Linked DNA regions of Homo sapiens. The protein of the gene in region 1 interacts with the protein of each later gene in a pairwise test. Each region holds a gene or a part of one and is shown in the gene's direction. Other genes may lie near its edges.

Region 1 (5,140 bases):
GATCGCTTGAGCCCAGGAGTTTGAGACCAGCCTGGACAACATGGTGAAACCCCATCTCTACAAAAAATAAAAAAAAAATGAGTGGGACATGTTGGCACATGCCTGTTAGTCCCAGCTACTCAGGAGGCTGAGGTGGGATAATCACTGAGCCAGGAAAGTTGAGGTTGTAGTGAGCTGTGATTGTGCCACTGCACTCCAGCGTGGGTGATGGAGCAAGACCCTGTTTCCGAAAAAAAAAAAGAAAAAAAAGATATACTTAAAATTTATTCTAAGATGAAGTCTTCAAAATCAGGTGTATATATCATGCTTACAACACATTATATAATTTATGGCTCCTGCCTAGCAGGGGTCATCACTGTTAGTTCAACTTTTCTTTGGCAAGTCTACTCCCTGTGCCCCACCGTACACTGCTACATTATTGTTTGTATATGTGTGTGTGAGACTGCATTTAGGCAACTGTAATAGGTTGAATTTGGTTATTTAATCTCTGTCCAAAATCACATCACAAAGATGCCTTGATTATAGAAAGATCCTTCCTTGCAGCATATTAGTTATTTGACACCCTCAGTGGATATAAGTGAATATTTTGAGGGAAGAATAGAAAAGATACAATTTTTATTTATTTATTTATTTATTTATTTACTGAGACAAGTTGCTGCTCTGTCGCCCAGGCTGGAGTGCAGTGACATGATCTTGGCTCACTACAACCTCTGCCTCCCGGTTCAAGTGATTCTTCTGCTTCAGTCTCCCTGAGTAGCTGGGGTTACAGGCATGCACCACCACACCTGGCTAATTTTAGTATTAATAATTTATTTTTAAATGGAATAATAATTTCACTTTCTTCTTACCAGATCTTTCTGTCTGGGTTGTTTGCTTTTATGAGTTTTTTTGTTTGAATCTCCCTTTTACATTAAACAAAAATTAACATTTTATTATGGGAAATTTCACTATGCTATTAGAAAAGCATAGTGAACCCCCAGGCATCATCAGTGATATTCGGTGTATAGCAGTTCACGGACAGTTTTGTTTCATCTATACCAACACCTATTGCTTATCCTCCTTCTGTGTCCCCCAGTTACTTTGAATTAAATCTTATACATATACAGATGAATATTATCACTTCATCTGTATCAGAATGTTATTTTTATTAAGAAAATTATTTTTGAGATAGGGCCTTGCTGTAGTGCCCAGGCTGGAGTGTAGTAGCATGATATAACTCCCTGCAGCCTCGAACTCCTGGGCTCAAGTGATCCTCCCACCTCAGCCTCCTAAGTAACTGGGACTACAGGTGTGTGCCACCACACCTGGTAACAGATGGTTTTAAAAACTACAATACATTATCACACTTAAAAAAATTATCTTATCTAAAATAACTATTCAGATTTTCCCAGTTATTTCATAAGTGATTTTTTTTTTTTTTTTTTTGAGACACAGTTTCACTCTTGTTGCCTCCAGGCTGGAGTGCAATGGCCCGATCTTGGCACACTCCAACATCTGCCTCCCGGGTTCAAGCAATTCTCCTGCCTCAGTCTCCTGAGTAGCTGGGATTATAGACACCCACCACCACGCCCAGCTAATTTTTGTATTTTTAGTAGAGACAGGATTTCACCATGTTGGCCAGGCTGGTCTCAAACTCCTGACCTCAGGTGATCTACCCGCCTCAGCCTCCCAAAATGCTGGGATTACAGGCATGAGCCACTGTGCCTGGCCTTCATAAATGATTTTTATGGTTCAAATCAGGATCCATATAAAGTCCATATATGTGTCTTTTTTTAGTCTATAGATTTCCCTTCCATCTCCTCTGCAATTTATTTTTGGAAGAAACTGAGTTATTGAGTCATTTGTCATCTAGAATGATGTACAGTTTAGATTTTGCTGACTGCATTCCATGGTGTGGCCAAACTTCCTCTGTCTGGTGTATTTCTCATAAGTGTGTAATTAGATGGAAAGGCTTGGTCAGATTTAAATTAGTTTTTTTTTTTCTACAGGGATATTTGAGAGGTAGTGGTATGTATTTCCATCAGGAAGCACATAATGTCTTCTTGGCTCTCTTTGTGATGTTAGTAGCCATCAATTTCAGTGCCTAGATACATTAATTAGATTTCTGTATCTCCTACTATCTCAAAATTTTCCATCTTCTGTCTGTGCTACATTCTGAGTCCTTTCTTCAGTTATAAATTCTAATTCATTGTATAATTCTTGTTAATCTGTTGACTTTCTAAAACTGGCTTTTCATATCTAAAAAAATTTCCTTTTTTCAAGTCTGTTCATTCCTCATAGTTCTTACTAATTGGTCATTTTTACATCCTTTTTTTTTTTTTTTTTTTTTGAGACGGAGTCTTGCTCTGTCATCCAGGCTGGAGTGCAGTGGCATGATCTCTGCTCACTGCAACCTCCGCCTCCCAAGTTCAAGTGATTCTCTTGCCTCAGTCTCCCGAGTAGCTGGGATTATAGGCATCCACCATCATGCCCAGCTAATTTTTGTATTTTTAGTAGAGATGGGGTTTCATCATGTTGGCCAGGCTGGTCTTGAACTCCTGACCTCAGGTGATCTGCCCACCTCAGCCTCCCAAAGTGCTGGGATTACAGGCGTGAGCCACTGTGCCCGGCCTATCCTTAACTTTAGACATTGCACACAGTACAACTGCTATCCGTATCGGATAGTTCTTAAGGTCAGCAGCTATTGCTTATTGTGTCTGCTGACTCTCTTGGTAGCTGCCCTTCTTTTGTGTCTAGTGATCTTTGAGTTCATTGTTTGATCTTAACCAGGGGAACTGTATGGGCCAAAATTAGGATTGAGGATATTTTTCTCCATAGAGGATTTTCCTTAACTTTTGCAGCAGCTGAAAGATGCCATTCAGATGGATCTACATTAGTCATGATGCCAGAATTGGGCAAATCTGCTGACACCAGGACACCTGTGTATATGTGTTTGTGTCTTTCCAGGAATTCATTGAAGAGTTGCTGTCTCCCCCTTTTGGGGGTTTAGTGGCATTTGTGAAGGAGGCTGAGGCTTTGATTGAGCGTGGACAGGCTGAGCGACTTCGAGGGGAAGAAGGTATGAGGAAAATATGGTAATGATGGGATCAGTGGTAAGGGAAGTGGAAAAGAAAAATGAAAGGATGCAGATTACATGGTGGGGGAATAGAGTATGAAAGACTGGATTGAGAGAATACCAGAAAAGAGGGTTTGATGATAAGGATGGCTATACCTTGGGGAGAACTTAGTGGAGTTGAAGATCAGCCAGATCCCTCTCTGACACTGTTTCCTCCTGCTATTAGCCCGGGTAACTCAGCTGATCCGTGGCTTTGGTAGTTCCTGGAAATCATCAGTGGAATCTCTGAGTCAGGATGTAATGCGGAGTTTCACCAACTTCAGAAATGGCACCAGTATCATTCAGGTGACCTGCAAGTCCCAGGCCCCACTCAGATCCCCCATCATTAATTATTTTCCCCATCTTTTTGCTGGGCTCAGCATCATCTAAGTGACCCTTGGTCTTCAGTTACTAGCTGTGCCCAAAGTTCTGTATGAGCCCTAACCTGATTCTTTTTTTTTTGTTTGTTTTGTTTTTTTTTTGAGACAGAGTCTAGCTCTGTTGTCCAGGCTGGAGTGCAGTGGCACAGTCTCGGCTCACTGCAACCTCTGCCTCCCAGGTTCAAGTGATTTTCCTGCCTCAGCCTCCCAAGTAGCTGGGATTACAGGTGCCTGCCACCACAACCAGCTAATTTTCGTATTTGTAGTAGAGATGGGGTTTCACTGTGTTGGCCAGGCTGGTCTCGAATTCCTGACCTCGTGATCTGCCCGCCATGGCCTCCCACAGTGCTGGGATTACAAGTGTGAGCCACTGCGCCTGGCCGCCTAACCTGATTCTTAATCATCACTATTAGCACCATTTTACGGTTTGATCCCTCAATGACTTTCTTTGACCAGGGAGCGCTGACCCAGCTGATCCAGCTCTATCATCGCTTCCACCGGGTGCTGTCCCAGCCGCAGCTCCGAGCCCTCCCTGCCCGGGCTGAGCTCATCAACATTCACCACCTTATGGTGGAGCTCAAGAAGCATAAGCCCAACTTCTGATGTGCCAGAAACCGCCCTGAGATCTGCCGGTCATCTCCATGGACTTCTGCACCCCATTCCATACCCTTCTTCACCTGGGGTACCCCTTCCAGTTTTCCCCTTGCTTCCCAGGCCCTTGACATGGCTTACCTGCCTTCACTCCCAGCACCTTGCCCAACAGGATAAGCTGGATCCCCTTGGCCTTCTGAATATCCCAGTGTCTTCAGGTTTCCCAAGACCACTTCCCTGTGGGCTTCCAAAATGGCCTTTATCATTTCTCCAGTCTGTCACCCTCCTTTCCTGCTCCCATACACCCAAGGCTTGTTTCTTCCCCTGTAAAAACCACTGCCTCAATCTCTGGTTCACTCAACTAGTCACCATGTCCTGAGGCATGAAGCCTCCTCAGCTCTTGGAATTGCTGGCAAGGGGTGACTGCCTCTGAGTCATTGTGTTTTTCAAAGTGATTTCTTTTCTGTAGCTTTTTGACCTAAGATCTCAGCAATTTGAACACTAACCTCTCCCCTCCTGGCTCAAGAATTACTCCGAAGTCAGTCTGCAGAAAATAAATATTTAGTATGACATGACACTTATCCCATTTCCTTTCTCCTTCCTCCTGAAGGTTTTTCAGGTGGCCCCATCTCTAGAATGACCTTTCCTTTCTGACTACTTCCTGGGCTTACATCCCTTCTGGTGGGTGTAACCTCTAACCTCTAGCTACTCCCAGGCCATTGGAGGAAGGTGGCCCCTGGCTAAAATAGCAGATGCTGCAAGGGATGAGAACCAGGCCGCGCAGCCCCAGACACTGTCCCAAGGGCTCCCTTGGGACAAGCCCAAGCTGACTCTGGAATCCCTCCTCCGTAGCAGCTCCATAGCTCCTCTGGTTGTGGCTGTGACAGCCCCTTGCTCGGGGGCTGCAGCACCCAACCCACACCCACACCGTTGGGGCAGGGCTAGACCAGGCGAAATTCGTACCATCCGTTTGTTTGACTTGGAGCCTTCCTGCTGTCCTCGCCTATACGCCTCGTTTGAACTTAGGCTCTAGACTGGAGAGACACGGGGACCCCTTTAAGGCCTAAGAAGAGAG
Region 2 (7,602 bases), on another chromosome or scaffold:
ACAGGCATCTTAAATTGAACATGCCCCAAAATGAACTTCTGATCTCTCTGAAAATCTGCTTCTTTCATAGTCTTTCCCATCTTAGTAAATGGCAACTCCTTCCATTTAGCAGACCAAAACCTTGAAATCATTCCTGATTCCTCTTTCTCTCATACCCTATATCAGCAAATTCTGAGAACTTTGCCTCCATAATTAACCCAGAATCTCACTGCTTCTTACATCTCTACTGCGACCAAGCAGTCTGCAGGACAGACTGCTTCTGCCCTGTCCTGCTATTTTCCACACAGAAAGACAAAGGATTAAAAAAAAAAAACTCACCACACCACGTAACCTCTGCTTAAAACCCTCTAACAGTATCCCACCATATTCAGAAAAAAAGCTAAAGATTTTACCTTGGCCCACAAGGATTTACGTGTTTTCACTCAGACCTCATCTCCTATTACTCTTTCCTTTTCAGCCTCTAGACAAACTGGCCTCCTTGATAGTCCTTTAACATGTCAGGTATGCTTCCATTTAATAGTCTTTGCGTATATTGTTCTGTAAGCCAAGAATACCTTTAAATAGCCTCACAACTTGCTCCTTGACTTCCACCGGTCTCTCAAATATCACATCCATATTGAAGCCTTCCTGAACTACTCAATTTAATTGCAACCTTTCTGGCTTGCACACTCCTATCTTCCTCCCTGCTTTAGTTTTCTCCACAGCACTTAATGCTATCTAATATAATATTTATTATACCCATTTTGTCTCCCACCACTATAATGTAAGCATCAGAAGAGAATAGATTTTAATCTATTTTATTCACTGACACATCCCCTGAACAGTGCCCAGCAAATAATAGGTACTCAATAAATATTTATTGTTGGTGTTGAATTTTTCAGTGAAAAAATCCCATCTGCAAAAGCCTAGTTTCCAGAACAGAGAAAGGTCCTGACTCTTCCATGAAGCGCACAAACATCCTGCTACTTTGAGGTTTTACTTACCCTGATCCCGGTGCCATTGTCTTGGATCTGAATCAACTTCAGGCCTCCCTCTTTAACAATCACTTGAATACTTGTGGATTTTGCATCTAAACTGGCAAATCAAACAGAAAATAATTTATCAGTCTGCAACTACTCTAATGTACATATTTTAATATGAGCCAAGCAATGATAACAAACTCCAAATACAAACAATAGTGCCTCATTAACGTGTTTTTCCTTTGTCTTACAGGCTCATACACTGTATGAGTTTACATATTGTGTGAGAGAGAGGGAAGAGACGGGCAGAGCAACCATCATTTCTAATAGGACATTCAGCACTATTTCTGTTCCTCTAGGAAAGACAGCAAGTGAAGTTAAAAATAGATTTCTTTTGGCAGATGTCTCTTCTCAACTAATTTTACTTTTACCTGAACTTTATTCAGCCTCAGGTTCCTAAGTGACTCTAATAAAATGTCACTAAATAATGTCACTAAAAAATAAAATTCTGAATGATTTTCTCTACTATTCCCTTTTATATTTACGATGGAGGGGAAAAAAAAAAGTAATGCAGAAAGTTAATAAATCTTTAGGAAGTCAATGAATTTTCTGGCCAGGCGCAATGGCTCACACCCATAATCCCAGCACTTTGGGAGGCCAAGGCGGGTGGATCACCTGAGGTCAGGAGTTTGAGACCAGCCTGACCAACATGGAGAAACCCCATTTGTACTAAAAATACAAAATTAGCCAGGCATGGTGACGCATGCCTGTAATCCCAGCTACTCAGGAGGCTAAGGCAGGAGAATCACTTGAACCCAGGAGGTGGAGGTTGCGGTGAGCTGAGATCGCGCCATTGCACTCCAACCTGGGCAACAAGGGCAAAACTCTGTCTCAAAAAAAAAAAAAAACCCAAAAAAAAGAAGTCAATAAATTTTTTGTGCTTTCAAAGAGTAGCCTATAAGCACAGACCAACTGCTAGAGAAAACAAATTTTCTAGCAGGGGCTGCATGAGAAAGAGTTATCTATTCCCCACACAGACAATTCTTTATTCAGAAATAAGATAATAGGCTGGGCACGGGGGCTCACACCTGTAATCCCAACACTTGGGGAGGCTGAGGTGGGCGGATCACCTGAGGTCAGGAGTTCAAGACCAGCCCGGCCAACATGGAGAAACCCCGTCTCTACTAAAAATAAAAAAATTAGCCGGGTGTGGTCATGCACGCCTGTACTCCCAGCTACTCGGGAGGCTGAGGCAGGAAGATCGCTTGAAACCAGGAGGCAGAGGTTGCCCTGAGCCAAGATCACGCCACTGCACTTCCGCCTGGGCAACAGAGTAAGACTTCATCTTAAAAAAAAAAGAAAGAAGACAATAAGTTACTTAAATATTACAGACATTTCTCATGAGCCCCTGTATTGAAGTTGTATTAGTCATCTCAACTTATATATTAAAAAGAGTATAACTGGACTCCATATAAAAATCTCCACTTGAGCCGGGCGCGGTGGCTCATGCTTGTAATCCCAGCACTTTGGGAGGCCAAAGCGGGCAGATCACCTGAGGTCAGGAAATCGAGACCATCCTGGCTAACATGGTGAAACCCTGTCTCTATTAAAAATACAAAAAACTGCAGGGCGCGGTGGCTCACGCCTGTAATCCCAGCACTTTGGAAGGCTGAGGCAGGCGGTTCACCTGAGATCGAGAGTTTTGACACCAGCCTGACCAACATGGAGAAATCCCATCTCTACTAAAAATACAAAATTAGCCAGGTGTGGTGGCACATGCCTATAGTCCTAGCTACTCGGGAGGCTGAGGCAGGAGAATCTCCCTTGAACCTGTGAGGAGGAGGTTGCAGTCAGCTGAGATCGCGCCACTGCACTCCAGCCTGGGTGACAAAGTGAGACTCCGTCTAAAAAAAAAATAAAAAAAAAATAAAAATCTCCACTTAAGTAATTAATTACAAGCCACCAAGCTAGTATGTTTAGTTTTGTTTTACAGTATTCTGGCACAGTACAATAATAGGCCCAGTTGTCCTGTCAATTCATTCTAACACAGTAGAAACAAAAGCCAGTCTGCCATTGCTTCTGTTACTACTATTACAAGTGAAAAGGAAAAAACATCCCCAGGTTCTTGCTCCTTCTTTCATCTACCTTCCAATTCTCTTCCTTTCCTTCAGTGGTCCTTTCTACCCACTGTTCTCTCAGTCCCATTGCCCTGAATAGTTTATACTTTCACAATAAATCCCTCTAGAAACCTACCACTCCAAACTGAAGCATTCTTTTTTCTATTAACGTACGGACGTCACTAACAACTGATTTTAACAAAATAATCTGACATAACGTTTAGGTGTATTTTGGGCTTGTCTTTTTGGAAGTTTATAGTCTGCACTCACTTTTCCTTCCACATGTTTCAAATCTCTTCCCTTCACATTTTTTGTCACAGTTATAAGCTTCAAAATCCAAGGATGACCCATAAAATCTGGTATCTTCGAAGTGCGTCCTCCGAAATAAAGGACAGGAAAACACTAAGAGGGGTCACTAATTTAACAATAGGGTAATCAGAAGTCAAGCCCAAAGTGCATCAGCCTGTCCTAAAACTACAAACGATTTGTTTTGAAAGAAACTCAAAATGAATTGTGCCTTTGGATGTGAACAGATGATTTCTGGAATGAATGAAAAGCAAGAAAACAGTAACACAGTACCCTCTGAAAAAAGGTTTTTCTCCCCATCTTAAGCTTTTATACATCTTTTAACTTCGCATGTTCTGCATACATAATTTTAAATTAAGTGGCTTCCTTACTTAGTTAACGGTACCATTAAGACAACACTACGTATATTCCTCCACTTACACTCCAAACAACCCTTAAAAGGTCTCGGGGGAGAGCGGTAAAGAAACACACGGTCTGCGGAAAAGGAGAAGGCCTGACTGGCACGTCAGGGAACCCGGCGGCCTCCGCCGTTGTGGGCATGCGCTGTACATGCCTCTGCCCGGGCAAAGAGGCGTGTCCGCGCCATTGAGTGACGCGGCCCGTTAAGTCGTAGCCCTTAAGTGAGCCCGGCTCGACTCCCTCCGTACCAGTTCTCAATCATCTCTTTGATAGCATTAGCTGGCCGCTGGATAACTTCCCCCGCCGCGATGCGGTTCACCACTGTCTCGTCCAGCCGCCGAATAACCCCTGCCACGAACGACATTTTGGCGCCAGAAGAGCCAAGGAAACGTCTAGATGCTCAACGGAAGTGCCTTCAGCCAATCACCTCAGTGCCTCGTGCTCACGTTCTTCCTTCAGCTGTAGCTTACGCCATCCAGCCCCACCCTTCAGCGGCAGCTATTGATTGGACAGCTTGAATGCCAGTCAAATTTCTCAACTCTGTGGGTTGCTGGGTCTCTTCGTCCCTCCCTGAAGCGGCTACTGCCCGCTACCTAGAAGGATATGCGCTTGCGCGTTAGAGATCGCTGTCCGCTCTTCCTATTGGTTCGTTTTTAGGAGCTCGGGGAATACGAAATATCCAGCCAATAGGAGCAGAGATGCCGGAACCGGGCTTGTGTGCCTCTGCTGAGGTGATCTGGCGCAGAGCGGAGGAGGTGCTTGGCGCTTCTCAGGCTCCTCCTCTCCCCTTGCGGCCTTTCTAACGTTGGCCCTGCTCTTGTGGCCTCCCGCAGAATGTGGATGACGCCCAAAAGAAGCAAGATGGAAGTCGACGAGGCTCTAGTTTTCCGGCCCGAGTGGACCCAGCGTTATTTGGTGGTGGAGCCTCCGGAGGGCGATGGGGCCCTGTGCCTGGTCTGTCGCCGCCTCATCGTAGCTACCCGCGAACGCGACGTCAGGCGCCACTACGAGGCTGAGCACGAATACTACGAGCGGTATGTGGCGGACGGCGAGCGCGCGGCCCTGGTGGAGCGTCTGCGTCAGGGCGACTTGCCCGTGGCCTCCTTCACTCCTGAAGAGAGAGCTGCTCGTGCAGGCCTCGGGCTCTGCCGCCTCTTGGCCTTGAAGGGTCGCGGCTGGGGTGAGGGGGACTTTGTATACCAGTGCATGGAGGTGTTGCTGAGAGAGGTACTGCCCGAGCATGTAAGCGTCCTGCAAGGCGTTGACTTATCTCCAGATATCACAAGGCAGAGGATCCTGAGCATTGACAGGAATCTACGCAACCAGCTTTTTAACCGAGCCAGGGACTTTAAAGCCTATTCTCTTGCCTTGGACGACCAGGCTTTTGTGGCCTATGAGAACTACCTCCTGGTCTTTATCCGCGGTGTAGGCCCTGAGTTGGAGGTGCAAGAAGATCTTCTGACCATAATCAACCTGACTCATCATTTCAGTGTTGGTGCGCTCATGTCGGCAATCCTAGAGTCCCTGCAGACAGCAGGGCTTAGCTTGCAGAGAATGGTTGGACTGACCACGACCCATACTTTGAGGATGATTGGTGAGAACTCAGGACTCGTCTCATACATGAGAGAAAAGGCCGTAAGCCCCAACTGTTGGAATGTCATTCATTATTCAGGATTTCTTCACTTGGAACTGTTGAGCTCCTATGATGTAGATGTTAATCAGATCATAAATACCATATCCGAATGGATAGTTTTGATTAAGACCAGAGGCGTTAGGCGACCTGAATTTCAGACTTTACTAACGGAATCTGAATCAGAGCATGGTGAAAGGGTTAATGGACGATGTCTGAACAATTGGCTTAGGAGAGGGAAAACTTTAAAACTAATATTCTCTCTAAGAAAAGAAATGGAAGCGTTCTTGGTTTCAGTAGGGGCAACAACAGTCCACTTCTCAGACAAACAATGGCTTTGTGACTTTGGCTTCTTGGTGGACATTATGGAACACCTTCGAGAACTCAGTGAAGAATTACGAGTTAGTAAAGTCTTTGCTGCTGCTGCCTTTGACCATATTTGTACTTTCGAAGTTAAGCTGAATTTATTTCAAAGACATATTGAGGAAAAAAATCTAACAGACTTTCCTGCCCTCAGAGAAGTTGTTGATGAGCTAAAACAGCAAAATAAGGAAGATGAAAAAATATTTGATCCTGATAGGTATCAAATGGTGATCTGTCGTCTCCAAAAAGAATTTGAGAGACATTTTAAGGACCTCAGGTTCATTAAAAAGGACTTAGAACTTTTTTCAAATCCATTTAACTTTAAACCTGAATATGCACCTATTTCAGTGAGGGTGGAGCTAACAAAACTTCAGGCAAACACTAATCTTTGGAATGAATACAGAATCAAAGACTTGGGGCAGTTTTATGCTGGATTGTCTGCTGAATCCTACCCAATTATCAAAGGGGTTGCCTGTAAGGTGGCATCCTTGTTTGATAGTAACCAAATCTGTGAAAAGGCTTTTTCATATTTGACTCGAAACCAACACACTTTGAGTCAGCCATTAACAGATGAGCATCTCCAAGCCCTGTTTCGGGTTGCCACAACTGAAATGGAGCCCGGTTGGGATGACCTTGTGAGAGAAAGAAATGAATCTAATCCATAAGGCTTTGTAGTACAAGATTGAAAAACTCAACAAGAATTTAATTCTAAAAGCAAAAATTGGTTTGAGTTTTCAAGTTTACTAATTTGGATTGTGAGAAAGTACCAAGTACCAGCCGTCCAAACTGATCACAATTAAAATTCTGACAGTTGCCTTTTTTTTCATCTCAAATGGCAGCATGGGACTGAAACATGAGAATGCCACCTTTTTTAAAACTTAGTTTAGTGACAAAGTCATTGTCTTTTATGATATAGTTAATTTTAAAGAGATTTAGTATTAATGTGAGTTGAATTTGCAGTCTGTTTTTTAGGTGTTCTGAAGATAAATGCCAAAAATTTCAGCTCTTATTTTAATGGAGTGTTAAAATTCTGATTCATATAGTCTTAAATTATCAACTCCTTAAATGTGCTTTTGAACCAATTTGCAGAAGCTCACATAGCAAGTTCATAAGTTTCCAAAAAGGAAGCCCATACATAACAGTGGAGGTGTTTTGTCTAACCATCAAAATGTTTGAGACTTTTTTTTAAACATTTCTGAGTTCGAAGGTAATACTGACAGATTTCTTCCCTCTTCCCTCCCCATCACCCACCTCAGTGATAACACATTACTGATAGAGGAAGTCATTAGAATCATTTTTAAGTTTCAGATATAGGAGACTTCATGCAATTTGGAGATAAGACTAATTATTGGGGGTTTTCCTTGGATTTTTTTTTTAATAACTGGGGGCTATTTTATCAGCTTGCCTATTAAAGGACTATGGTAAGTATAGAATCTTAATGGTTGCCAGTTAGTAATTCTTTTTTTTTTTTTTTTTACTGTAGACACAAGTTTGGCCCTATCAAAAACGATGAGGAAAAAAGATTGCACTCCAGGATTAGGAGGTGTGAGATATTTTAGCTTTTTTGTCTTATCTGCGTGGGTATTGCTGCTTTATTTTAAAAAATCCTGCCTAAAGTAAACACTTTGTTTTAAAATGATACAGTATCAGATTTTGTTAGATGCTAGAAATGGATTTATTCTAAAATTTGGAACTGTCGTACACATTCTATATGTAAGATAGCACACAAGTAGAAATATTTAAAAGCAGTCTTATTCACAGATTGCAGTAATTCTGTATTTCTACTAAGATAATCTGCTTTGTGCCAAAACAGTAATTTCCAAACTTC
Region 3 (7,223 bases), on another chromosome or scaffold:
TGGTGGTGAACAAGCTGGATTGAATGTTGTACTTGGCAATATTTGAAAATAACTCTAAATAGAGTATCTTGCTAATGGTATTTCTTTCTCTAAAATTCATTTAAAAAATAGTTTATAGAATTCAAAACTTACTGAGTGTCTAATACGAATGGGGCACTCTAGGATATACAAAGATGAATGATATAAAATCTTTGCCCTCAAAGAGTTTTTAATTTAGTGTAGGGGCACAAATGCATGCAAATAATGACAATAAAATATATGGCATGATAATTTAATTCCATGAAAATCCATTGAGAGCTCATCAGGAACCAGCCCTGTGCTATAACAAGGACAGAAAATATTACAAAGGAGCAAACAAATTAATTCTGATTGGGAAGACAGGGAAAGAGTTCTTGGAGGAAACAGCATTTAATCCAAGGTCACACAACCAGTAAGTGATGGAGCTGGGATTTGGTTCCAGAGTCAATCCCCATGAATGCTATGCTCTACCAGCTCCCAGTATGTGGAGCTTAGAGTAATGTAGTACCATGGAGATGAAGAAGTACAAGTAGCCAGTTGTGGCTAGACCAGGGGTTTGCTACCCTGCTTGTGCATCAGGATCTTTGGGGAAGCTTTAAAAATGTTAATCCTCAGGCCTCACCCCTAGATATTGCTTTCCAAGTAGTCTTAACACACAGTCAGGGATGAGACTCACTGGGTTGAACTCTGTGGCTTATTAAGGGGAGGCAAAACTGAAAAGGTAGGCTGGACCTAATCTGGGAGGTAGAGATGCCATGCTAAATTATGCATTTCAACTTTATTCTATAGGTAAAGAAGAAGCTACTGGGGAGGGAAATGGTAGGATCAGAAGCATTTAGTAATTAGCTTGATTTAATCACTGCACAATGCATACATTATCAAAACATCACTTTGTACACTGCAAATATAGATATAATTTTTGCTTGTCAATTATATTTTAATAAAGCTGGGGGGGGGTGGAGAAATATTTAGACTGATTATTTTGCCTGCAGCATGAAGGATGGGTTTGAAGAGCAGATATTGAAGGCAAGAGCAGAAGTTAGGAGGGCTATGCCATCCCAAGGAGAAGTGAGGAAAAACTCACCTGGGGCAGCAGAAATGTAAAGGAAGAGTCATATATGAGAGACATTGCAGAAGTAAACTCAATAGGCCAGGCGTGATGGCTCACGTTTGTAATCCCAGCACTTTGGGAGGCTAAGGCAGGTGGATCACCTGAGGTCAGGAGTTTGAGACTGATGAAACCCCATCTCTACTAAAAATACAGAAATTAGTTGGGCGTGGTGGTGCACACCTGTACTTCCAGCTACTAGGGAGGCCAAGGCAGGAGGATTGCTTGAACCTGAGAGGCAGAGGTTGCAGTGAGCTGAGATCGCGCCACTCCACCCCCATCTGGATGACAGAGCAAGACTGTCTCAAAGAAAAAAAGGAAGAAAACTCAATAAAACTTGTGATTAGTTAGAAGGAAGAGGCAACAAAGAGGGAAGCATGGAAGACTGATGCTGTGAGCATGCAAGGGCACACTGGAGAGGCAGATTTGAGAATGGGAGAGGATCAGAGTTTATGTTGTCTTACAGAATTTGAGGTTCCTAAGGAACAATCTTGTGGAGGTGTCAAATGGGCAGTCCTGAAATTTGAGTCTGTAACTAATGAGAAAGACTAAAGCTAAGCTGGCTGTCATTTAAACACAGGTGAAACCTGAAATTTCAGCATTTGGTTGAAATCATTAAAGAAGAGAATGTCTGGAACTACACACACACACACACACACACACACACACACACACACACACACATATATATGAAATAAGAGGGCTTCAGAAAACACTTAAATTTAGGGAGTAGATGGGGAAAAGATAAATGCCAGACTTGGAAGAAGATGGAGCAAGAACATGAAAGAAGAAACCAAGAGGGCACAGGAGAACTGAGAAGAGCATTCTAAGTGGGTGGATAATCAGTAATGTCACATGAGTAGGCTGAAAAAATGAAGCTTTTGTCTTTGGAAAGTCACTGGTAGCTTTGTAGTTAAATAAAGTGGAGAAAGTAGAAGACAGGCCACAATGAACTGGACAATGACGGGGAGATGAGGATATGTGGGCAGCAAATGTGGAGATTTCCATTAAGAAGTCTTGTGGAGAAGAGGAGAAATGAATGGGACTGTAATATGAAAGTTAGGTCAAGGGAAGTAAGGTTTGTTTTGCAGGGGAAAGTTGAGTATATGTTAAAACCAAAGAGACAGAGTTTATGGAGAGGTATAACTTGAAGTTAACAAGATGCAGACAGGGTGCCGTCTCTCACGTCTATAATCTCAGTACTTTGTGAGACTGAGGCGGGAGGATCTCTTTTGACTCCAGGGGTTTGAGACCAGCCTGGGTAACAAAGGGAGACCCTGTCTCTACAGAAAAAAAAAAAAGAAGTAAGCTGGGTGTGGGGGGCACACACCTGTAGTCCCAGCTACTCGGGAGGCTGAGGTGGGAGGATCACTTGAGCTGTGGAAGTTGAGGCTCCAGTGAGCAGTGATTGTGCCACTGCACTTCAGCCTGGGCAACAGAGTGAGGCCCTGTCTCAAAAACAAAGGCCAGGCCCGGTGGCTCATGCTTGTAATCCCAGCACTTTGGGAGGCTGAGACAGGCGGATCACCTGGGGTCAGGAGTTCAAGACCAGCCTGGCCAACATGGTGAAACTCTGTCTCTACTAAAAATACAAAAAATTAGCCAGGTGTAGTGGCAGACGCCTGTAATCTCAGCTACTCGGGAGGCTGAGGCAGGAGAATCACTTGAACCCAGGAGGCAGAGGTGGCAGTGAGCTAAGAGTGCGCCACTGCACTTCAGCCTGGGCAACAAAACAGGGCGAGATTCCGTCTCAAAAAACAAAAAACAAACAACTTTAAAAAACCCCAAAAACCAACAAAACAGAAAACAAAACAAAACAAAAATGCAGGGGTAAAGTGATGGAGTCAATTCCCGGAGGGTACTGAAAAGGACTAATTCAAGAGAACTCAATGGAACTCAATGGAAAGTCGCCCTTCTTTCTCATAGAGGAGAGGGAAGGAGAGAGAGAGAGGAGAGAGGGAGACAGACAGAGACAGAAACAGAGGAGAGAGGGAGAGGAGGAAGAAGAGAGAGAGACAGAGAGAGAGAGAAAGAGAAAAAGAAAGCCGGTAAATTCTGCTGAGGGAAGCTGTGGGAGTTGATAATCGGGACCCTGAGTGGAGTGGGAAACGTCTGGAGCTGCATATACGGAGAGGCGGTAGAGTCAACTAGGGATGAAAACGAGGAATTAAAAAAAAAAAAAAGACTGATCTGGAGGGTCCACCAAGGAATTTCCTTGTAACGGGTAACAGCTGTAATATGACATGTTGAAGTATTAACACTGATGACTGCTGTCTACATTATTTTCCATGTGCATGAATTGAGTAGTTACAGGGAAAAAGCGAACTGCCTGTTCCAAACGGCTTACACAGATGAACTGAAGCGAAGAAGAAAAATGAACTTTCTTTTGATGTCAACAAGATAGAGTATCATTTACTGTTGAAGCCAGGTTATACTGATTATTTTCGATCTGGTAGTTAACTTTATCATCATTACATTTGGCTGAGTCATTCCTGGGCCCTAAGTAGAGACGGCTAGAATTACCACGTGAGTAAAACATTATAATATCAAAATAATTAGATTGGCCACAAAAACTACCACGGAAAGATACTGCGTAGCAAAAACGTTGGCAGCAAGTTCCAAAGCCTTGGCGAGGACAAGCAAGGAGCGCGCGCGTGCAGCCATACCTGGGGCCCGCCCAGCGCAGCCGAGCGCGCGGAGAAAGGCCAGCAGCAGCCCCGCTCCCGCCAGGCGGGCGGACGCCGGCATCCTGCGGCGGAAGCACGCGGAGGCACAGCCAGGGCCTCCGCCCTTTGCCAGACAAGGGCACACCCCAAGGTCTGGGAGCGTCGTTCTCAGAAAAGTACAAGTTCTTCTTTGAAGGAGCTCCAGAAAAGCCTCTCCCGCCCCTCCCCGGCTCCCCAAGGGCAGGGCTGGACCGAGCTGCAGAGTTGGCCGGACACTGACTGGGTCAAGTGACCTTGGGCTGACCGCACCCCCACCCCCGGTCGCCCCGGGTCGCTGGTGCACTGCGCCTGCGCGCGTCTCCCCGAGGAGTTCGCGGCGAGGGGCGGAGCTTGGCGCGCCAGTGCCTCGGTTTCCAGGCACCGGGAATAACAGAAGCCAGCTGAGAGCGCCTGCGCGGCTGTCGGTTGATGGGGAGGTCAGGTCTGGGAAACTAGGCCCTGGGGTTTTCCCTGAGCAGGAGCGGTGCCCGAGGGCCTCAGGTACGCAGAAGGGCGGGGAGACATGGGATCAGCACCTCCACCTCCTAAGGGACCGAAGGGCAGGAGAGCGAGAGGACTTGTCCCCAGAGGTGGAGTCCGAAGTGGGGGCGCCCCAGTTGACCCTTCGGGACAAAACGTGACTTCAGCCTTAAGGATCTAAAACCGGCCGCGGTCAGGTCAGGTGGCCCTCAACGCTCAGGTTACAAAACTTTTACAGTCTGCGCCACGGGGACTCCTGGGATGAGGGTTTGACAGCCAGGCACCTGCTCCAGGCCCTAGCAGCTTTTGTGCTCTTTGGAATCAAGCACGGTTCCAGCAGGAGGGAAGCCCTGAGAGTTCTTTGTGCCAGTCACTACCTCTGGGCCACAGCTTTCTCACCTGTAAAATGGTGAGGCTGGACTCTGCGGGAACCCTTCAGTTTACAGGGGAAGAAACGGGGGCCAGCAAGGGAGAAGTCGCTTGTCCTGTTACAGGCCTAGAACCTGACTTTCTAGTCAGGTGCTCTTTCCACCTACTATAGAGTATACTGTGCGTGGCAGAGGCTGGTGCTGGAGGAAAGGAAAGCTAGGTGGCAGGAACACCTGTAGCACCTTCGTTTTTCTACCCTCAGGGCCTAACACAGTGTCTTGTGCATAATCACTCACCAAATGGTTTTTGAAGGGAAGCTTTGGCAGGTCCAGCAACACTGTCCCCAGAAAAGTTTAAGGGAATGTGGGCAGGGCAAATGTAGAAATAGTTTGCTTTAGCAGCCGAGAGTGAACCTCAGACAAACTCTTCCCGTGTATCTGGTTTAAATCTCCCGTAGGCGTCAGTCCAGGCCCTGAATGGCTGGTCTCCAGCGGTTGGCGTCACATCTGCCTGTGGGCGTTATGCTCCCACATAATACAACGGAAGCTCCAGGGCCCCACTCAGCCAAGCAAGACTCTTACGAACAAGGTGACTCTTCCCAGCAGTCCTTGAAGGGGCACCTGAGGAACAATTTCCAGAAGCAGCTTTTGAGCAACAAAGAGTTGATTCTGGATAAAGTCTATACTCACCCCAAATGGAACACCCAAACAAAAGCCCGGAGCTACTCCTATCCCCACTGTACTGGAATCAGCCAGCAAGATCCAGAAAGTGATTCCCAGGGCCAAGGAAATGGTTTGTTTTACTCGTCAGGCCCTCAATCCTGGTATCCCAAAGCCAATAACCAGGACTTTATCCCCTTTACAAAGAAACGAGTTGGAGTGGACCGGGCGTTCCCATTGAAACCCATGGTCCACAGGAAGTCGTGCAGTACAGGTGAGGCTGGCACTGATGGGGACCATAATGTCTACCCAAGGCCCCCTGAGCCGAGAGAGTTTTCATCTAGGAACTTTGGTGTGAGGAACCAGGGCAACTTTTCTGTGGTTGGTACTGTTCTTGCTGCCACGCAGGCGGAGAAGGCCGTGGCAAACTTTGACAGGACGGAGTGGGTGCAGATCCGAAGACTAGAAGCTGCAGGGGAGAGCTTAGAGGAGGAAATCCGAAGAAAGCAGATTCTCCTGAGGGGAAAGCTGAAGAAGACAGAGGAGGAACTCAGAAGGATCCAGACGCAAAAGGAACAGGCCAAGGAAAATGAAAACGGAGAGCTACAGAAAATTATACTCCCCAGGAGCAGAGTTAAAGGTAATAAAAGCAACACCATGTACAAACCTATCTTCTCCCCAGAATTTGAGTTTGAGGAAGAATTTAGTAGAGACAGGAGAGAGGATGAAACTTGGGGACGGTCTCAACAAAATTCAGGTCCATTCCAGTTCTCTGATTATAGAATCCAGAGGCTCAAAAGGGAAAGGCTGGTAGCAAGCAATAATAAAATTCGAGACCCAGTCTCAGAGCCATCGGTGGAGAAATTCTCCCCGCCTTCAGAAACACCAGTCGGTGCTTTGCAGGGATCCGCCAGAAATTCCAGCCTGTCCATGGCACCAGACTCCTCAGGTTCCAGCGGCTCCATTGAAGAGCCACAGCTGGGTGAGTGCAGCCACTGTGGGCGCAAATTCCTCTCGTTCAGGCTGGAGAGACACTCCAACATCTGCAGCAGGATGCGGGGTTCCAAGAGGAAAGTGTTTGACTCCTCCAGGGCCCGGGCTAAGGGCACAGAACTAGAGCAGTACTTGAACTGGAAGGGGCCAGCTTCAGCCAAGGTAACAAGAGCCTTATGGATGTGACTTGGTGTGGTGATCATTGTAGGGGTCTGTTTTGTCATCATCAGTTTTCTTTAGGGAAAATTCATGTGTCATGTAGGAAGAATTGACGTCTAGAATTAACATTTCTTGATTACTACTGTATGCCAGCATTGTGACGGGAGCTTTTCATGTGATCTCCACATTATCTCTCATTGTATCAGTTCAAAAATCAAGACTTGGACAGGCTAAGTAACTTGCTTGAGGTCACAAACAGCTTTAAGTGGCAGAGTCGGCATATAAATCTTGGTTGGAATGACTAAAAAATCTAGACATAGAATTTGTGTCCTTTGGATTATAAAAGTAATAAAAGTTTACTGTAGAAAATTTAAAAGACACAAAAAATCTAAAGAAAAAAATGCAGCCTTTTGTCACCTGGAGAGAACTCCTCACTCTTTGCAATGTATTCTGCCACTTCCCAAGACTAGGATCTGTGACCATTCCTTTAACTATTCACTCTTTTAAGGTTAGCTCAGTGTTAACATAGCTTCTTAGTAAATAGATGAAACACAATTAAGTTTGGAATTCTTTTTCTGCCCATTTAGAATGTAAACACCTTGAAGGTAAAAAGGACTTTCTTTCTGGTTATCTTACAAACCATGCCCTTGCCAATTATTTCTCACTTTAGAAAAACCAGGTTGGAAAAAGTAAGGGTTTCGTGACACTTACATGATAAATTTAGGTGAACTT
Region 4 (3,343 bases), on another chromosome or scaffold:
GTCTTGAACTCCTGACCTCGTGATCCACCCGCCTTGGCTTCCCAAAGTGCTGGGATTAGAGGCATGAGCCACTGTGCCCAGCCTGGGTAACTTCTTTTTTTTTCCCCCACAAGATGGAGTCTTCCTCTGTCACCTAGGCTGGAGTGCAATGGTGTGATCTTGGCTCACTGCAACCTCTGCCTCCCAGGTTTAAGCGATTCTCCTTCCTCGGCCTCCTGAGTAGCTGGGATTATAGGCATGCGCCACCACTACCGGCTAATTTTGTATTTTTAGTAGAGATGGGATTTTTCCTGTTGGTCAGGCTGGTCTCGAACTCCCGACCTCGGGTGATCCACCCGCCTCGACCTCCCAAAGTGCTGGGATTACAGGCATGAGCCATCGTGCCTGGCATTCTTTTTCTTTTTAATTAAAAACAATTTTTTAAAAATAGAGACTGGGTCTCCCTATGTTGCTCAGGCTGGTCTTCAGTTCCTAGACTCAAGGGATCCTCCTGCCTGGGCCTTCCAAAGTGCTGGGATTACAGGCATGAGCCACTGCACCCAGCCTTTTTTTTTTTTTTTTGACAAGGTCTTGCTCTGTCACCCAAGCTGGAGGGAGTGCAGTGACACGATCATAGCTCACTGCAGTCTTGATATCCTGGGCTCAAGCAATCATCTCACCTCAGCTTCCCAAAGTGCTGGGATCATGGGCGTGAGCCCCTGTGCCCAGATAGTTATTTTAAATAAATTCTTATTTTATGCTTTTTAAAAGGCTTTATTGAGACAGAATTTGCATACCATACAATTCACCCATTTAAAATGTGCAACTCGCCAGTCACGGTGGCTCACGCCTGTAATCCCAGCACTTTGGGAGACTGAGGTGGGTGGATCACTTAAGGTGAGGAGTTCAGGACCAGCCTGGCTAACATGGTAAAACCCTGTCTTTACTAAAAACACAAAAACTAGCCGGGGATGGTGGTGCACACGTGTAATCACAGCTACTCAGGAGGCTGAGGCAGGAGAATCGCTTGAACCCGGGAGGCAGAGGTTGTAGTGAGCCGAGATTGCGCCACTGTACTCCGGCCTGGGTGACAGAGCGAGACTCCATCTCAAAAAAAAAAAAAATTCTAAATCATTAAGCAGAGGAGTCCTGTATTTCTACAGGTCAAAATTCTATTCTCTCATTCCCCAATCTCTATAATTCTCTGTGTTGGCCATTTTTAATGTTTAAGATATGCCCATGCACAGACTTTTTATGCAAATGTTATACTCGAACCATTCCATGTTCTTTCAATTCTATGTTTTAGTTATTTAAATATATACTTTTATATAGGAAACATATAGATCAGATTTTTCATGGTCAAAATCTGTTTCCTGTTTTACTGAGTCTCATGGTGGCTTGACAGTGGCGTGTGTATGTGTGTGTGTTTGTGTGTGTATTGAAATCGTGACCTTGTGTTTGATTGAACTTAAGCTCAAGGAGACCTGAACACATAAATAGAAATTATTTTCCCCCTGAAAAGGTTTGCACTTGCTTTCTGCAGTTACCCATGGGGCATTACCAACCCAGGACCATTTTAACCCTCTTCAAGAATTCCAGTTTAATATGGGAGCTTCAATTCAGACTCCTACTTTGTGGGGAACCTAAGATTCCATGTTCCAAGCTAGTTTTAGCGTTTGCTGGCTTACAGCCCACTGTTTCTGTTTCAGCCTACAGTTTTCACCTGCTTTCTAAGAGCCTAGTGATGCATTAAAAAGGTATAATTTGTGAACATCTGATTGATTGCAGTGGCAAAGAGAGGGCCCTTCTGAATACCTGGCCCCTAACTCCTCTGGAGATAGAACCCTCTTCTTTTCTTTCTGAACCTATTCCCTATCAGAAACTCCCAAGAATGCCCTTGAAACCTATATGCCTCCTTTCAAATATGCCTGCCAGACTGTTTTAAAATAGTTTTACACACTTTCTTTAGGATAAAAGAATGAAAGAGTTTGAATGGATGTTATTTCTCAGAGAATTGGGGCTACTCAGAAGGAATCCTTGTCCACAACCCATGATGTTTGCAGGAGGAATGATAGGGTGAATGTGAGTGGCCTGGTCTGAGTCCCTGCTATGTCTGTCCCTCCTAATAAGTTCCTGTTTTCTCTTCCCTCTGTGTCCAGCATAATTACTTGAAAACCATGATGGGCCTCCAGCAGGCACATAGAAAATAGAACCTCATCGCCAGTACCTTAAAGGACAAGACCAGCAACTCCCACCTACTGTAGTGGAGCTGCTCAACCACCTGCCCAGAGCTGCAGCCCCCTCTACTCCAATGCTGGGACCCAGCACAGAGAACACATTTGGCCTGCATGTTGGGAGGAGCATCCTCCAAGGACAACCTTGCTCATCTCCACAGAGCACTTTGGGTTTTAATTCACTGTCTTATATGCAGGGACAGGATAAAATAACTTTCTAGTTTGGACTTTCAGTGCTCATCTGAGAACTTTGTCTTATTTCCTGTCTGAAAGGACATATTCTCTATGTATGTGTGAGGTCAGAACTGAGTCTCAAGTAGGAAGGCAGAAAAGTAGCTCAGCCAGGCTCCTCCTGGCAGGCCTTTGTCACACTGGTCAGCCCCTTTCCTGGATAGACATCCTAGGGTGGGGGTGGTGAGCTCGGTCTGAGGAGCTCTGCTTCTCACAGCTCCCTCAGACCCTAAGTTCTCTCAAGACATCTTTTCTGTGTTTCTGAGCCAGTGAAGAAGACAGGAGGAGGCCCTCCTTCATTTGGCAACCAGGGGAGGATAAGGTCTAGCCACAGAGACCAGAAAGGGATGAGGCAGAGCTGGCTCCATGTACCAGGGAATAAATGAGCAGCTTCTGGGAGACATGTCCTCTGCATGTTTCCAGAACACCACGGCCTTCCCTACGCAGCATGCACGGCCACCAGGCACCAGGGTGCCTCCCCTCCCCGCTTTCTCTCTCCGTGTAGGCTGCACTGAGCAGAAGTGAAAGTGAACGATTTACCCTGAATAGGAACTGGGATCACTGTCAAGGCTGAGCAGGGAAGAGAGAAGATATCACTCTCTATCAAGTTACCAGGCTGCAGCTTGGGCCCTTGGTGGTGGCACCAAAGGGAAAGAGTTCATTACTTTGCTCAGAGAACAAACTCAGGCCCTCTGGGGCCTTCCAGGCTGACTGATACGCCCCTGGGTTGGTAAACCAAGTCTCCACTGAGCGAAAAGTTTCAGTGCTTCCTTGGAATTGTATCTCACCCCCTCTTCTGTTCTTATGGGTCAAGGCCTTGGCCTGACACTCTGTGGGTGCTCCCCCGTCTGACACCCTCATCAGGGCCTTGAGGTTTCTGTTATTCTTCCAACAGTGGG

The links.
Region 2: the proteins of VPS52 (region 1) and EPM2AIP1 interact in binary tests that used the Homo sapiens proteins (3 or more experiments, as listed by UniProt).
Region 3: the proteins of VPS52 (region 1) and ZC2HC1C interact in binary tests that used the Homo sapiens proteins (3 or more experiments, as listed by UniProt).
Region 4: the proteins of VPS52 (region 1) and KIF9 interact in binary tests that used the Homo sapiens proteins (3 or more experiments, as listed by UniProt).

Annotation. Positions count from the first base shown.
Region 1 is NC_000006.12:33,249,778-33,254,917, reverse strand, and holds the end of VPS52 (vacuolar protein sorting-associated protein 52 homolog), read left to right. Parts: intron 1-27; exon of another isoform or gene 28-220; intron 221-2,946; coding exon 2,947-3,058; intron 3,059-3,211; exon of another isoform or gene 3,212-3,281; coding exon 3,282-3,400; exon of another isoform or gene 3,401-3,405; intron 3,406-3,930; coding exon 3,931-4,077; 3' UTR 4,078-4,640; downstream 4,641-5,140. UniProt on the Homo sapiens protein: Acts as a component of the GARP complex that is involved in retrograde transport from early and late endosomes to the trans-Golgi network (TGN).
Region 2 is NC_000003.12:36,990,091-36,997,692, reverse strand, and holds the start of EPM2AIP1 (EPM2A-interacting protein 1), read left to right. Parts: upstream 1-4,561; 5' UTR 4,562-4,615; coding exon 4,616-6,439; 3' UTR 6,440-7,602. Other genes in the region: DNA mismatch repair protein Mlh1, read right to left, coding at 984-1,074, 4,030-4,145.
Region 3 is NC_000014.9:75,065,418-75,072,640, forward strand, and holds the start of ZC2HC1C (zinc finger C2HC domain-containing protein 1C), read left to right. Parts: upstream 1-4,223; 5' UTR 4,224-4,332; exon of another isoform or gene 4,333-4,531; intron 4,532-5,137; 5' UTR 5,138-5,156; coding exon 5,157-6,494; intron 6,495-7,223. Other genes in the region: ACYP1 (acylphosphatase-1 isoform c precursor), read right to left, coding at 3,793-3,874.
Region 4 is NC_000003.12:47,227,498-47,230,840, reverse strand, and holds the end of KIF9 (kinesin-like protein KIF9), read left to right. Parts: intron 1-2,138; coding exon 2,139-2,189; 3' UTR 2,190-2,843; downstream 2,844-3,343. UniProt on the Homo sapiens protein: Essential for normal male fertility and for progressive motility of spermatozoa.